Linked DNA regions of Homo sapiens. The protein of the gene in region 2 purifies or fractionates together with the protein of the main gene of each other region. This does not show direct contact. Each region holds a gene or a part of one and is shown on either strand. Other genes may lie near its edges.

Region 1 (7,436 bases), on a different chromosome or scaffold from region 2:
AGAACTTCCTGAGGCTGTGTCAGGTGCCATGGTCTTTAACCTTAGCAAAATAAACCTCTAAATTAATTGAGACTTGTCTCAGATACTTTTTGTTTTTTCAAGATGGAGTCTCACTCTGTTGCCCAGGCTGGAGCACAGTTCTGTGATCTCCGCTTACTGCAACCTCCGCCTCCAGGGTTCAAGTGATTCTCCTGCCTCAGCTTCCAGAGTAGCTGAGATTACAGGCGTCCAACACCATACTCAGCTAATTGTTTGTATTTTTAGTAGAGATGGGGTTTCACCATGTTGGTCAGGTTGGTCTCAAACTCCTGACCTCAAATGATCCACCTGCCTCAGCCTCCCAAAGGGCTGGGATTATAGGTGTGGGCCACCACACCTGGCCTCAGATACTTTTTGGTTTACATGCCTCTAACTCACTCTCCTTCCTTTCATAGCCAATTTCTTGTAACAGTTGTCTCTTCTTTTGGGCTCCATTTCCTAATCTCCCATTCCAATTTTAATTCCATACTACATCATACTACTAAATTCCATATCACATCACACATAATCTTGCTAAGATCACAGAAGACCTTCACGTTGCTAAATTCAGTGAGTATTTTTTAGTCCTCACTCCCTCCCAGAAGCATTCTCCTCTTTTGGTCTCCTTTATTTTATTCTTAGTTTTCCTCGTCTCTGCCTGCTTAGCTTTCTTTGCAACTGTTCTTATTTTTCCTAGTCATTAAATATTAGCAATCTTTGGGGCTCTGGTCTTTTGTCTTCTTACTCTACAGTCTCCTTAACTGATCCCCTTCAGTTGCTTCAATTACTACTATGAGCCAGTAACTCCCAAATCTCCTGCTTACGCCCATACACAGAACCGTGTTCTTGTTATCAACCCAATCATTCAAACTCAACGTGTTCAAAATAAAACTCATGCTCTTGACTTCTTACTTCACTCCCCAACCATCTTTTTCACTGATAGTTTCACTCCTACTACAGTAAATGGTACCATCATTTAGAGTTGTTCAAGGACTCCAAAACTGCTCTTCAACCCTCCTATTTCTCTCTGCCTCTACATCACCACCCAAATCCAGGCCCTATCAGATCACACCAGGATTACCGTAACATTCTCCTAACAGGTCTCCCAAATCTACTCTTACTCCCTCCAATCCAAGTTCTTTTTTATTTTTTTGAGACGGAGTCTTGCTCTGTCACCCAAGCTGGAGTGCAGTGATGCAATCCTGAGTCACTGCAACCTCTGCTCCCGGGTTCAAACGATTCTCCTGCTTCAGTCTCCCAAATAGCTGGAATTACAGGTGCCCGCCACCAGGCCAGAGAAATTTTTGTATTTTTAGTAGAGATGGGGTTTCACTATGTTGGCCAGGCTGGTCTTGAACTCCCAACCTCAAGTGATCTGCCCGTGTGGGCCTCCCAAAGTGTTGGGATTACCGGCATGAGCCACTGCGCTTGGCCCCTCCAATCCATGTTCTAAAAGGTAGCCAGAGACAGTCTTTTAAAACTCAAAAACTTCTTTAAAACTCATTTTCCTTTTTACAAACCTTTAATGATTTCTTTTTGTCCTATGACAGTATTGGAAAAATTCTAACAGGCCAGTGTACCCCGATAAGAGGTTGTAGTGTTTCCTCAAGTTACGGTTTTGGGAGGCTGTCAGAAACCATGATAGACTGCTGGTTTGAATCATGTTTTACCAGGACTTGTTAAACTCCTGTGCTCCAAGTCTTTTGGCAGCTGATCCCGCATGCTCAAGAGCACCCCTGACAACGTGGACACTTGGAGGGTTCTCACCATCCAAGAAGATGTCACATTACTTAGCCTTTAAAACCTGAGTGAGGCCGGGCACTGTGGCTCACTCTGTAATCCCAGCACTTTGGGACGCCGAATTTGGCGGATAACTTGAGGTCAGGAATTTGAGACCAGCCTGGCCAGCATGGTGAAACCCCGTCTCTACTAAAAATACAAAAATTAGCCCGGCGTGGTGGTGCACGTCTGTAATCCCAGCTACTCAGGAGGCTGAGGCAGGAGAATCACTTGAGCCCAGGAGGCAGAGGTTGCAGTGAGCTGAGATTGTGCCATTGCACTCCAGCCTGGCCGACAAGAGATAAACTCCGTTCCAGAAAAAAAATCCCCAAAACAAAAAACCCAATTGAGTCAATTCTAATAGTTTTGTGTATTTTTAGTCTCCAACCAGCACTATTTTATGGAGAGAGAATAGGAAACAAAGAATCTAGCTAGGGGAAGCGTGCAAAAACCTTTGGTTAAGACTAAGTTGTAAATGGAATAACCCAAATGTCCATCAACTGATGAACGGATAAACAAAATGTATATCCATACAACAGAGTATCATTCAACCATAAAAAGGAATGACGTTCTGCTAGGTGCAAATACATGCATGAACTTTGAAAACATTATGCTAAGTGCAAAAAGTCAGACACAACAAACATATTGTATGATTCTAGTTACAGGAAATGCCCAGAATACGCAAATACCTGGAGACAGAGAGTAGATTAGTGTTTCTCTAAGGCTAGGAGTAGTGGGTAATAGGTAGCGTCTGCTAACGGGTGCAAGTTTTATTAGATAGTGTGATGGTTGTGGCCGGGAGCCGTGGCTCACGCCTGTAATCCCAGCACTCTGGGAGGCCAAGGAGGGTGGATCACGAGGTCAGGAGATCGAGACCACCCTGGCTAACACGGTGAAACCCCGTCTCTACTAAAAATACAAAAAATTAGCCGGGCGTGGGGGCGGTCACCTGTAGTCCCAGCTACTCGGGAGGCTGAGGCAGGAGAATGGCGTGAACCTGGGAGGCGGAGGTTGCAATGAGCCGAGATTGGGCCACTGCACTCCAGCCTGGGCGACAGAGCGAGACTCCGCCTCAAAAAAAAAAAAAAAAAAAAAGATAGTGTGATGGTTGCACAACCTTGTGAACATACTAAAACCCACTGAATTGTGCACTTTAAAAGGGTGAATTTTATAGTATGTGAAGTACATCTCTAAAAAGAAAAAACAGAACAGGCTGTGTGGCCCAACTGATTTATCACTACTCTTAGAAGGAAGCCCAATTTAAAATTGAACAGAATAAGGCCTGCAAGGCTCCCGTGACTTGGTCCCTGCCTACCTCTCTTAAACAAATAAATAAAATGTATACTATGTAGAAACAATAACAAAAAAAAGGCAGAGCAAGGTATGGGGCAGTTCTGGTGCCAGAGGGTTTGTTATTTAAATAAAGTGGTCGGAAATCATGCGTCGCTGATAAGGTGACAACAGTCAGAAGCCTGAAAAAGTTAAGGGGTAAGCAATATAAATATTTAAGTGCTTCCTCATAACTTTGCTCACTCCACTCCAGCTAAATTTGCCACAATTTCTGTTTCCTCCATCTGAAATGCTCTCCCTCCTTATTCTTCCATTCTTCCTCTGGTTCACTTCTACTCCTGTAGTTCTTGGTAACAAACGGAACATTTGTGGAGTGAGGGGGGGGGATCCATTTCCTTCAAGGCGCAGTTTGGAGGTCACTTCCTCAGGGAAGCCTTCCCTTCTCTCTTTCCCTTTAAAGCTCCCAGTATAGCATCTTCCAGTACTTACTTGAACCGTAATGGGTCATTTTTAACGTCTGATCCCCTTCAGACAAGCTCTGGCAGGCCCTTGACGTATCCCCAGCGACTAAGCACCACGTCTGGCACTTAATAGGGGGGTGGAATGGGAGTCCTGGATTCAAAGTTTGGCTCCAACACAAGACAACTGGACGCAAGAGGTGAGCCCACTGTGATTTCTGGGGAACCCAGGGAAGGGCTGCTTGATTGACTGACCGACCAGCAGTGAGATCTACAGGCTCTCTCAGAGCTGCGCCAGCGCCGAGTCCCCGGCCCCACATACTTAGAACCCCGTAATGGGGCTCAAAATCACTGAACCTCGGGCTCCTAATCCCCAACGGCGCATTTCCAACCCCCAGGCCTGACCTGCAGGTTCCGGGTGATAAGGTGCAGTTTCTCTTCAGGGCTGGGAGCGTCCCCCATGGCTCCGCTACCCCTGCTTCCCCCGCTCAGCCCGGCACCAGAGCCCCTTCCTGGGTCACCGTCGCCGCCGCGTGCCGGGAACTGTCACGCGAGTCCAGCCAGGTTGCATCAGCTGGGCTCGGCGCTCCGCTTACTCGGCCTGGACCCCTCCGGCAGCGGCCGGAAAAAGTGAGGAGCAGCAGAGAGTCGAGCAGGTCGATGAGACGGGAAAAGGTGGAGCCAGTGGGCACGGTGGGCGGTGCGGAGGGCGGGGCTGAGGCGCCTGAGCGGGGCACAACCCTCCTAGAGGCGGGACGGTTTCCTGCCAATCACTGCTGGTTTGCCCTCCCCCTGGTGTTGGCCCGGCTGACTCGGGGTAGGGGAGGTCGGGGAGGGGGCGATAAAATGGCGCAGGGGGCGGAGTGAGGCGCAGTCGTTCGCCCAGGCTTTGGCCCGGCTTCCGGAGGTGAAGAGCGGGAGGGACGAGGGGGTCGGCGTTACCCGGCTTGGAGGGGGATGGGGGCGCCTGTTGCTTCTCCAGGGGGTTGCGCACGCCGTCCGCCCCTTGGAGGGATTGGGAGGCCCACGCCCTGCTGCGAGAAGGGCGCGTTCTAGCTCCTGAGGTGATGGCGAGGGAATGTCCCTGCCCCTCCACCTCCAAGTCGGCGGGCGACAGATGCCCCTCACCCCGCTGAGGAAAAGGGAAGCTCCCTGGTCGTCTTGAGAGTCGGGGAGCGCCGTCTGCAGTCCCCTGCCCAGTGGGGGTGGGGGCCGCCTCTGTCCCGGCCGGCTCGGCGGGAGGCTGTTGCTGGCGGGAAGATAGCCGCGGGCTTTTCTGCCGCGTCTCGCGGGTGGGGGCAGGAAGAGGACGACCCATTCCCTGGGGAGATCTGAGGACGGTGGTCCCCGGGAGAGGAGCGCACAGCACAGGCCTGCTGAGGGGCGGGTTTGCCCCTACTGGGGGAGGGGCGGGGAGAAAACTCTCGCTTCTCCCGCTTTCCGCCGGGAGGCGGGAATTCGCGGTGTCCCCGGGGGAGGGAGACGCAAAGGCCCTTCCTGGAAGGCGACACCGTCCCGGGCCGTTGCATTTGTGAGAGAGAGCCAAGGCAGTATCCTCCAAAGGTTGGGCCTGGGCCACCCTTTCTCCGGCTCCTCAAGGGCTGGAGGCGGCGTCACCAGTTACTTCCAGGGCAAGAGGGAAAGCAGTTATTACCTCAGTGGGCCCTGGAAAGGTCCTAGAAGTGGTTGAATTGCCCACGGCCTGCCCTAACCTGATCTCCGGTGTTTTGTGTATTTATTAGGGACTCCAAGCTCTACCAGACCTGCCTGAAGTGTTTTAAAGCACATTTTCTTTTTGAAAAGAAACCTGTTGCTGCAGCTTAGCGCATCTGTTCTCTGTGTCCATGTGGGAGGAGAATCCTGGCACCCTCATCTAGTGAAATGTTACCTAAAGCAAAGATTTGCAGCCCTGGGTTGTTTTTTCCGTCCTGCAGTGTTTTTAGTTACTTCGAAGGAATTTGCAAAACTGTTACAGATAATTTCAGTTCTTTTTGATTTTTTGTAAATGTTGTGCCTATTTTTTATGGAGTGATAAAGCCTGCTGAGTGCGTTTCGTGCTGTGTGCTTCACATGTATTGCATTTGGGAAAGGTTGGAAATCAAAGGCCAGGGGGAAGTCTTGTCCACTGGAAATAATCTCTGCTCTTGGCTGTACCTGTCAGACCCTGCTTGGTAATGGTCTTGACTTTAGAGCTTGAAAGAGGATGTGGGCTTGCATCTGGTGTTGCAGTTTTAGTGGCCTCAATAAAGTAAGGCTTTGTGCTCGAAGGCAGTAGGTTTTCTGAGGTGAGATAAAAATAGAAAGGGAACCAGTTTCTGAGGTTGCAACCAGGAGGTTCGAGAACAGAGAGGGGGTGGTAAACTGAAGTGTGAAGAAGGGGGTGGACAGGTGAGAGAGATGTGGAAGGACAGAATGGGGTCACAGAAAGGATGGGGTGTAGAGGAACTAAGAAATAGAATTAGAAGATCGGAAAAATATTCTTCCCTTAAAAATGAAGGGATATGGCCAGACATGGTGGCTCACGCCTGTAATCCCAGCACTTGGGGAGGCCGAGGCCGGAGGATTGCTTGAGGCCAGGAGTTCAAGACTAGACTGGCCAACATAGCAAAACCCCATCTCTACTGTAAATACAAAAATTAGCCTAGCATGGTGGACGCCTGTAATCCCAGCTACTGGGAGGCTGTGGCATGAGAATCGCTTGAAACTGGGAGGCAGAGGTTGCAGTGAGCCCAGATCACGCCACTGCATTTCAGCCTGGGTGATTGAGTGAGACCCTGTCTCAAAAATAAAAATAAAATAAAAAAATAAAGGGGTCCCCATATTTTAAGTGGAGGTTACCAGACAAGTGCTAAGAAAGGTGGTAGATGGTAGACAGAGAAGTAAGCAAGCCTTCTTTTGACAGAGAAGTAATAAGTAAGGCTGTCTTTGGAATTTCACTGAAGAACTTCAGTTTTATATGAGGATTTCCCCCCTTGCACATTCATTAAATACCATGTTTTTTTAGTATAGAACTTTTAGGTTTAGAGTACTTTCATAAACATCCTATTTTTTCTCATGATAATCTGTGTTTGAAGTTAACAGTATTTACCCCCTTTTTAGATGCATGTTCTCATCTGTATTGAAGTTCAGAGACTTGAAGTGAATTGCTGAGGTCCAGTACCTCTATAAAGGATAGTTCAGTGAACATTAATTTGCATAATTTGCCGGATATTTCAGATGTCTACCTAGTCTGGTCTTCAGTGACAATATGGTTGAGTGCTGGATTAAACTAGATAAGAGTAGAGTATATTAGATAATTTCAAGCAGGGTCTAGGGGAAATTCCCTACCAGTTTAGCACTCTTTTTTCCTACCGTTCCTATGCTTTTTTTTTTTTTTTTTTTTGAGATGGAGTCTCGCTCTGTCACCCAGGCTGGAGTGCAGTGGTGCGATCTCAGTTCACTGCAACCTCCGCTTCCTGGGTTCCAGCGATTCTCCTGCTTCAGCCTCCCAAGTAGCTGGGATTACAGGCATGCACCACACACCCGGCTAATCTTTGTATTTTTAGTAGAGACAGGGTTTCACCATGTTGGCCAGGCTGGTCTTGAACTCCTGACCTCAGGTGATCCACCCACCTCAGCCTCCCAAAGTGCTGGGATTACAGGAATCAGCCTCTGCGCCTGGCCCTATGCTTCTCTTAAGACTCCAGGGATCGGGGCAATGATGGTGGTGGGGTGAAATAATAACTATGGCCACCAGTTATTTGTCTCTTATGCCATGCCTCTAGTGTGCCACATTTATGTTCACGATCTCATTTAATTCTTGCCACAACCCTATCAGGTAGGTACTGTGATATATGAGGACATTTGATACTTCACAGAGTATAATCATTGTATCTTTCCCATTGACTTCAT
Region 2 (7,697 bases):
TTCAGTATTTGGGATTTTCTTTCTGCTTTTGTTTGTTTGTTTGTTTTGGTTATAAGTATCTTAGTTTCTATCTCAGCTCATCCTATCCTTTTGCCAGAAAGCCATTCCTTACTCCTAGCACTGTCCATATTTCCCTGGCAAATGCAACACTTACTTTCATAGGATCAAGGATTTGAGGAATGGAAGAACCTTAGCGGTCCCTTCCGAAAAAGATTTAATTTAGGAATCCTCTCTCCAACTTCCTTGTCAGAGGATGGTCCTAGCTCTATTAAACATTCCCGGAATATCACATTGCTGGAGAGCTTTCATGGATCAAGAGGTTTCCCTTGTGTCCAGACTAGCTGTATGATCCTAAACAAATCACAGCATCTCTTGAGTCTGCGTTTCTATAAAGCAAGAAGAGGTGATGATTTCCAAGGTCATACAAGTCACAGAATTCTTCCTAATTATTTTAATGGCAGTAAGCAGAATAAAATGCTTGCTTGTAACATCTTTGGCTCTGAAGGATATTGTCCAAAGGGTGAGGTTGGTGTTTAAGGGGCAGGGACAGTAATTTTTAACACCATCCAATAGGGACTTTTCAATGCTACCGAGCAGCGGATCTACATACTGTTCCCTAAAAGGACACCTCCTGGCTACTTGTTCCTTAACTTCCCGCTGCCCAGTCTGCCACTGAAAGCCCCACATGGCACTTAGGGAGCTCTCACCATGCATCCCTGATTATCGTTATTACTATTACTATTCTGATTTGTTCACAGAAAACCATTACTACCAGTCAGTGGTTGATCTTCTATCCTTATCTACTTATCTGCAATATTTTTCACTGTTGCCCACTCCCATTCTTTAAAAATTATCTTCTTTCTTAGCCCCAGGACAATCAATCTTTGATTCTCCTTTGCAATGTTTTGATCACTTTTTTATGCCCATCCCTTAAAAAGGAGTCATTTCTTTGGACCTCCAATCTTCACCAGGGAGAATGCTAAACCCCAGCTCTCCTTCTTTCCCTGCCACTGTTTGACCTTACACAGGTCGTATTCTCTCTGGGCCTCATTTGTCCCTGAGAAAAGAGAAGGAGCTGGAGTGATGATGTGGAACATCTCTTCAAGCTGTACACTGCTATGCTAGTCATCTTAATCCCATTCCTGTATTCCTTCAGTATGTGGTAGAGTTTCAGAAAGCAAGTATAGGTCTGTGATGATGCTAATACCACCAAGAAATCATTCATTCCAGTATGGGGAGAAACCTTAAACACCATCTGGTCTGAAACCTTTGTTTTACAGATGAGGGAACCTAGGTTCAGAGAGGGTACTTGATTGCCTCAAAGCAGAGACAGGATAATAAGGAGGTCTCCTGGGCTCTCACTTGTTGCAAAATAAATTTGAGTGTTTTCTGGATCTGGCTAAAGTGCACAATGATATCAGAGTAAAACGTCATACGGAAGGTATAAATTGATCTAGAACACATTAAAGCCTTCCCCTCCCCCTTTAAAAAAATCAACTTTAAGAATTTTGGAGAGAGATTTGCTATCAGTGGTGCTTTATACAAAATAGCATAATCTGATAACATAAGACATTTTAGATTTATGTTTTTAAATAGCCAAATAAAACAAAATATCAAGTCACAGATTACATATATTTACATTAATTCAAATGTCCAAAGCACAGTACAGTAGGGTCTATTTAATAGTTCACATAATTTAAGATTTACATATACACAAGCACATGAACCAATATTAGTTTGCTAGAACAGGGATTTAAGAAGTTACTCAGACATTTTGGTATTGACACTTACATATTTATGGCAACAAATTATGATGACTTTAAATTTTCAATGAGATCTTTTGTACAAGAATACAGAATGGGAAGAATGTACAAAATGAAAAGACAGGCAAACAAATGTACTTTCCTTGCACTATTTCTATAACACCATATAGGATGTGGCATTATCCAGTACATTTTATCAGTGTAGTCTATTCATTCTGGTCTAAAACGGTAATTTTGGCTGAATAACCCCCAAATCTAACTTTGCTTTAGGCTTTATAATTAATTGATGCTTGATTCTTCTTTCTACATCTTTTAAAAATGAAATTGGACACTAGTGTTTTTCTTTAAAATAACTCTGGTACTAGTAAGTTAGCAAAGTCTATTTTTAAAGGACACTAATACATAAAGTTTATTTTTTCTTTCAATATCCTAAATAAAGGGACAATGGGAGTCATATCACCTTTGGGCCTACTCTGAAATTACCAATAGTGCTAAAAGCTAAGATATTGTGATCTAGAACTTAAACTTTGGAAAACAACCCCATCTTTCTATGGCACATTGAGGAACTGAAGTACTTTACCTCATTTCCTACCAATCATTTTAAGAGAATTTGGTTGTATTTCAAAGAACAAAACAACACAATTTCTGTCCTGCTGTTTATTTTGCAGACCACACACAAAGTTAAATATGAACAGATTAAATTATGACATCATACAAATATAGGCACAAATTAAGTGGACGCCACAAAAGGTGTGTCAGAAAACACTGAATTGACTGAATCTGAGTCAGATTTCCCCCTCGTGGACTTTAGGATGCCCTCAGCTATCACTGCCTCGCTGGGAAAGAGCCTGACTTTCCCGTTCTGCCCTGCTGCAGTATCCTTCAGGGGTTCCAAAAACACCACTCTTTTACCTGCACCTGCCTTCCGTTCATCAGCGGAGGCATCACTAGCGGGGCCAGGACTGAGAATCGATGAATGGGCATTGCTTTGGTGTAGCATATTTTTCTGTCTCTTGGTTTTACACTTGCAGGGGCATGGAGTCAGATAGAGGTACAAAAGTACCAAAACGATACTGGCCACGCAAGCAGCAAGAGTGGTAAAAGCTGTGTTAAATGCCTCATGAGCATGGGATCTGCTTACAGTGAAATTGCTCACATTTATTGTGACGTCCACAGTTTCATTTAACAGGCGTTGCTTATTCATTGCGATACAAGAATACACTCCAGCATCCTCAAAACGAGGGCTTTCTATAACCAGACTTCCATTGTGAAACACGTAAAAGTTTTCCATCTCTTTATCCGGCTCTAGCAGTCTGTTATCTGGACCCACCCAGATGAAATCCGTATTTGCATTACCTGTCTTGCTGTCACAGTGGACCATCAGTCTTTCCCCGACCTGAGCCTCATGAATAAAGCCAAGCGCACGAAAGGAACCATTGATGATGCTGTCAGAGCAATTCATAAAGCTATCCTGGAGCAGAAGTACCTGACGCGAGTGCCTGGAGTCAGACCACAGGCGACAGGTGTAATCGTTCTTAAAATCCATCACTGAGCTAAAGTGCCTACGATACCAAAAGACCAGCAAGGAGTACAGGGAACAGTCACAGACAAATGGGTTTCCATGAAGGTAGATGCCTCTCAGCTGTTTTCCTGGCACTAAATTTATGTGGTGCATTGGCATGGAAGGAATTCGGTTATAAGAAACATCTAAAAACATCAGTTCTGCCAGCTTGAACCTTCCAACATACAAATCCATCGGAAACTGTGTGAGAAAATTTCCACTTAAGTAGAGTTTCTGCAACTGGGAGAGCCCTCCAAACGCTGAAGGATCGAGATAGGATATGTGATTGTTGTAAAGCAGAAGCACTTCCAGAACCTTCAACTCTTGGAATACAGCATTTTTCACCGTCTTCAGCTTATTGGACGATAAGTCAAGACACTTCAAATTTGGAGTTGTGGAAAAACTGCCCGTGGAAATGCTGGTGATGTTGTTATGACGAAGAATTAGGGTGTTCAGCTTTGCAAACGATACTGGAATCCACTCAGAATCCAGAAGCCCAATTCTGTTATAACTCAGGTCCAGTCTCTTAATCAGTCTGAAAAGGTTCCCAGGCACCTTGGACAGGTTTTTGTTGGTGCAGCTGACGATGTCAGTGGCACAGATGCAAGCGGTGGGGCACACCCCAGAGGCACCAGGGCCCACAGTCACTGTGATCATCAGCAAACACAGCAGCTCCCTGCAGCCCGGTCTGACGACGGCTCCAAGCAGGGTGGGCAGAGTGTGTACACGTAACGACATTATGGTCGCCTCTGAGTCTCTTCCCGGTGTCTTTTCCACCGGCTCAGCCTCCCACCAGTGAACCTGGCAAACAATTAATAATTCAGAGGGAGTAAAAAGCAGAAACTGACTACCACTAGTTAACCCATAAGAGCCATACCTTACTTTCTTTCCAATAACTTTTGAAATGGGTTTTATTTCACAATAGGGAGCTCTGTGTTGCCTCTTCACTGTTAAATGTATTTTTTCCTCTTTCCTGGGTTAGTCCTGCTTATAAAAATGTACAGTCACATTCTCTCCATACAACCCACCGTCTCACCCACCATCAGAAACTCAATTTTTTCCTAAGGTGCATCCTGCGTTGTTGTTGTTGTTGTTGTTGTTTTAAACTCCCTCCAACAGACACAACTATACGCAAACGTACGCTACAAACAATTAAACGGAAATACTTAGCAACCACCCATCCAGGAAAAAACTCACGGTGCTGGGGAGCCTCGTGGGCTCCGGGGAGGCTGCCTACGCAGTGCCTTCCGAAGGTCTGCGCGTCCGTCTGTCCGTGTCTGTCACTCTTGCACCTTCCGACTTCCTTTCCCTCCGGCTCCCGGCGGGCGGCACCCTCTAGCCGGCTCTCAACTTTGAGGAGTTTCAAGCAGCCGCGGCGGCAGCAGCAGCCCTGGACGCAGCAGCCAAGCTCTTCGCTGGCTCCCGGGGGCTCTCCCGGGTTCCTCTCATTGCAGGCTGAAGGTACCGCCTCGGCGCTCTGGCCGCCGTGTGCCCGCGCGCGGGGCGCCCCGCTCCCAGAGCCGGGGCCGCGGGAGGGGGCGCAGGCAGCCGGGCGGCAGCGGGCGGCCCCGCCTCTCCGCACTCGGGAGGCTGCAGGACCCGGGGTTCCCGCGCGCCCGGGGCCGGGAGACGGGCTGGGGCGCCGGTCCCACCCCTGCGCGTCCTGCCTCCTGCGGGCAGCAGCTCGGAGCCTGCGGGAGGGAGCAGGCTGGGCGCGTGGTGGGGGGCGCGCGATGCGGAGGGGGCGGCGGCGCAGCCAATCCGAGAGGCGGCCGGCGCCCCCTCATACCGCCCCGCGGCCTCGCCGCCTCCTCCCGCTTTCCTCCTCCAGCTCCCACCCGGACCTCTAGAACGGCCGCGCAGAGCGGGGAGGGGGCAGGGGTCCACACCAGAGGCCCAGACTCTGGTCCTTGAGTCAAGATGCCCAACCCACTCGCCTACCAATTACGTCCCTTCGTCCAGCTCCAAGCCGGGCGGTAATGGGGTCCAGGAAGGCTAAAGGGGACACGCCCAGCCACCGAGGGAGGGGTCTCACCCTTGGAGACCCACTTCGCGGCGGCCGCACAGGTCACGTCTCTCTCCCCACCCAGGCCAAGGAATCCCCGGACCTCTTAGAGCTTTGCTTTGGGGCAAGGGCCAAGGAGGCTTTGCCTGCGCCAAGTGCAGTTGACTGTCTGGGTTTACAAAATAAACCCAGAAGCAGCCTGACGTCTCCGCTCGTTTCTAGGGAGGAGGTCGCGGGGAGGGAAGTCGGGAACGTTTCCTCTCCACAGGGATATCTGCTGGGAGGAAGTAACCGGGAAATCGCCACGGGGACACCCCTCACCTCCCTGGGAAAGTTCTATCCCTTTCCTGACTCAGGAGGCGGCAACAGGGATGGTGTCCAATTCAAGAAGGAGGAGGGCAGGAAAGAAGGCTTGGAGCCGACCTTCCGGCTGGAATGCAAAGATAAGAGTATTAACCCAAATAATAATAATAATCCCAGAGCAGACCTTTTTTTCTTTTTTCTCTCTTCTCCTTCCCCTCTTCTCTCTCCCTCTCTCTCTCCCTCTCTCTCCTTTCTCTTTCGTTCTCTCTCTCTCATTTCCTCTGTCTCTGTCCCCGCCACCTCCCCGTCTTTTGCAAGCGTGCTCGTGGCGCGTGCGGGACAGGGAAGTAAGGGGCGTGTGCGCGGAGGCTCTTCATCCCTTCCGGAGATGCCGCGGCCGACCAGCGCGCTTTGGTTCAGCAAGCACAGAAGGTGCAAGCCGAACAAGGCCATTCAGAAATGAGGTGGAGACTATGAGGCTGATGAGCTCTACGATTAAAAATCCATTTTTGTTTAATTCCAAGATAAGTTTTAACGATGGGATTTGAGTGAGTCAGATCGCCCATTTGGCCATTATATCCGGATTAAAAGAAATAAATTACTGCCTTGACAAAAGATGCCAACCACAGTGGAATGAAAAGCAACCAAATTGAGGAAACAGTTGGGGCAGGATAGATAACTTGTAATATTACTTAAAAATAAAAATGATGAGGACAACCAACTCTTCCTCCCCTCCCCCGCGCACCTTTTCACTTGAGCAATCTTGAATTTAGTGAAAGTTGTTTCCTACATGGTCCGTGAGTCATTGCTGTGGTCAGGCAGATTTGTTAGACCAACACCTAATTTAAATAGAATTGTTTGTGGAATAAAGCCGGGCTAGCACTAATAAATCTAGGCATTTTCAGATGAGGACAACTTGATTCAGATTAATTTATTTCATGAAAGTTGAATTTTATCATAAGAACACAGCCTAAAATGCTTCATGCAAGCATTTCTTACTGTGTACTTAAAGGGGAGAGGCAGAAGTTGAGATTTTCTAGTATTAGGCCACACTTCCTGGGATTCTCAAAAGCTTGGTCTCCAGGACTTCAATTTTATAGAGTTAGAATAGTTAATACAGAGGAATAGAATTAAAATCGCTCAGAGGAATATTTTTTAAATGACTAATAAATGACCAGGTTTTTGCAGGATTTTACTAATTAACATCGTATTTTAAGGAAACCATGAAGGCAGAAGAAAGACCTGTATTTAATGCAAAAATAGTCTAAAAAGAATAAGTGATTCAAAAAAATGGAAACAGGAAGGTTATATTATTATAACTACAGGCATATTGTAGAAACATTATGCAGAGATTACACAGCAAAAGTAAACTAAATGCACTCAAAATCCATAGACAAGGCTATTTATCCATTTGAAGACCTGATTTGGGGGATTTCACATGTTTGTGAAAGGGAAGAACGTTGTAAAAGGATTGAGTTTACTAGCTGGGAGGAAAGAAAGATAAGAGTTGATCTTAAGGTATAAGACGTGACCTTATTTTGTGGAGGATAACATTTTTATCTTTCTAGCATCCCTTCTCCTTCTAACAGATTCCCTCTTTCCACTAGAAGGTAAATTCCAAGAGGATAGCAGTTTTATCTGTTTTGTGTATTGCTGTATTCTCAGCTCTCAGAACCCTGCTTAACACATTCAATAAATTTTTGATAAATGAACTGATGAACAGGGAACCTATTCAAAGTGGTTAAGATAACGGTTTACCCCAACTGAATCTGCTGGTTGCTGTCCTGCCTTTTATGCTTTGAAAGCTTGTCTTAAAAAAAAGGAGAAGAAAGAGAAAGAGGAGTCCTGTAAATGTTATTTGAGTCCTGGATCTGGTAGTACCTGAAGGCCACTGCATACTTTTACTTCCTTTTTAATTATATTTTCCACCCCACCCCCTTTTTTAGCTTAAATTATTTTGAGTTGCATGTCACTTGTGACGGACAGAGTACTAACACATGTAATGATGGTGATAATAAATATGTACTGAGCCTTTATTATATGCCAGACACTGAGCTATGCGTTT

The links. The genes of interacting proteins can lie anywhere in the genome.
Region 1: the proteins of PCED1B (region 2) and S100PBP purify together in Homo sapiens (affinity purification with mass spectrometry; 3 studies listed by BioGRID and IntAct, with this or other methods). This does not show direct contact.

What each region holds. Positions count from the first base shown.
Region 1 is NC_000001.11:32,813,238-32,820,673, forward strand, and holds the start of S100PBP (S100P-binding protein), read left to right. Parts: upstream 1-4,415; 5' UTR 4,416-4,452; exon of another isoform or gene 4,453-4,609; intron 4,610-4,943; exon of another isoform or gene 4,944-5,108; intron 5,109-5,287; exon of another isoform or gene 5,288-7,362; intron 7,363-7,436. Other genes in the region: YARS1 (tyrosine--tRNA ligase, cytoplasmic), read right to left, coding at 3,951-4,007.
Region 2 is NC_000012.12:47,074,941-47,082,637, forward strand, and holds the start of PCED1B (PC-esterase domain-containing protein 1B), read left to right. Parts: upstream 1-4,680; 5' UTR 4,681-4,785; exon of another isoform or gene 4,786-5,019; intron 5,020-7,697. Other genes in the region: AMIGO2 (amphoterin-induced protein 2 precursor), read right to left, coding at 2,494-4,062.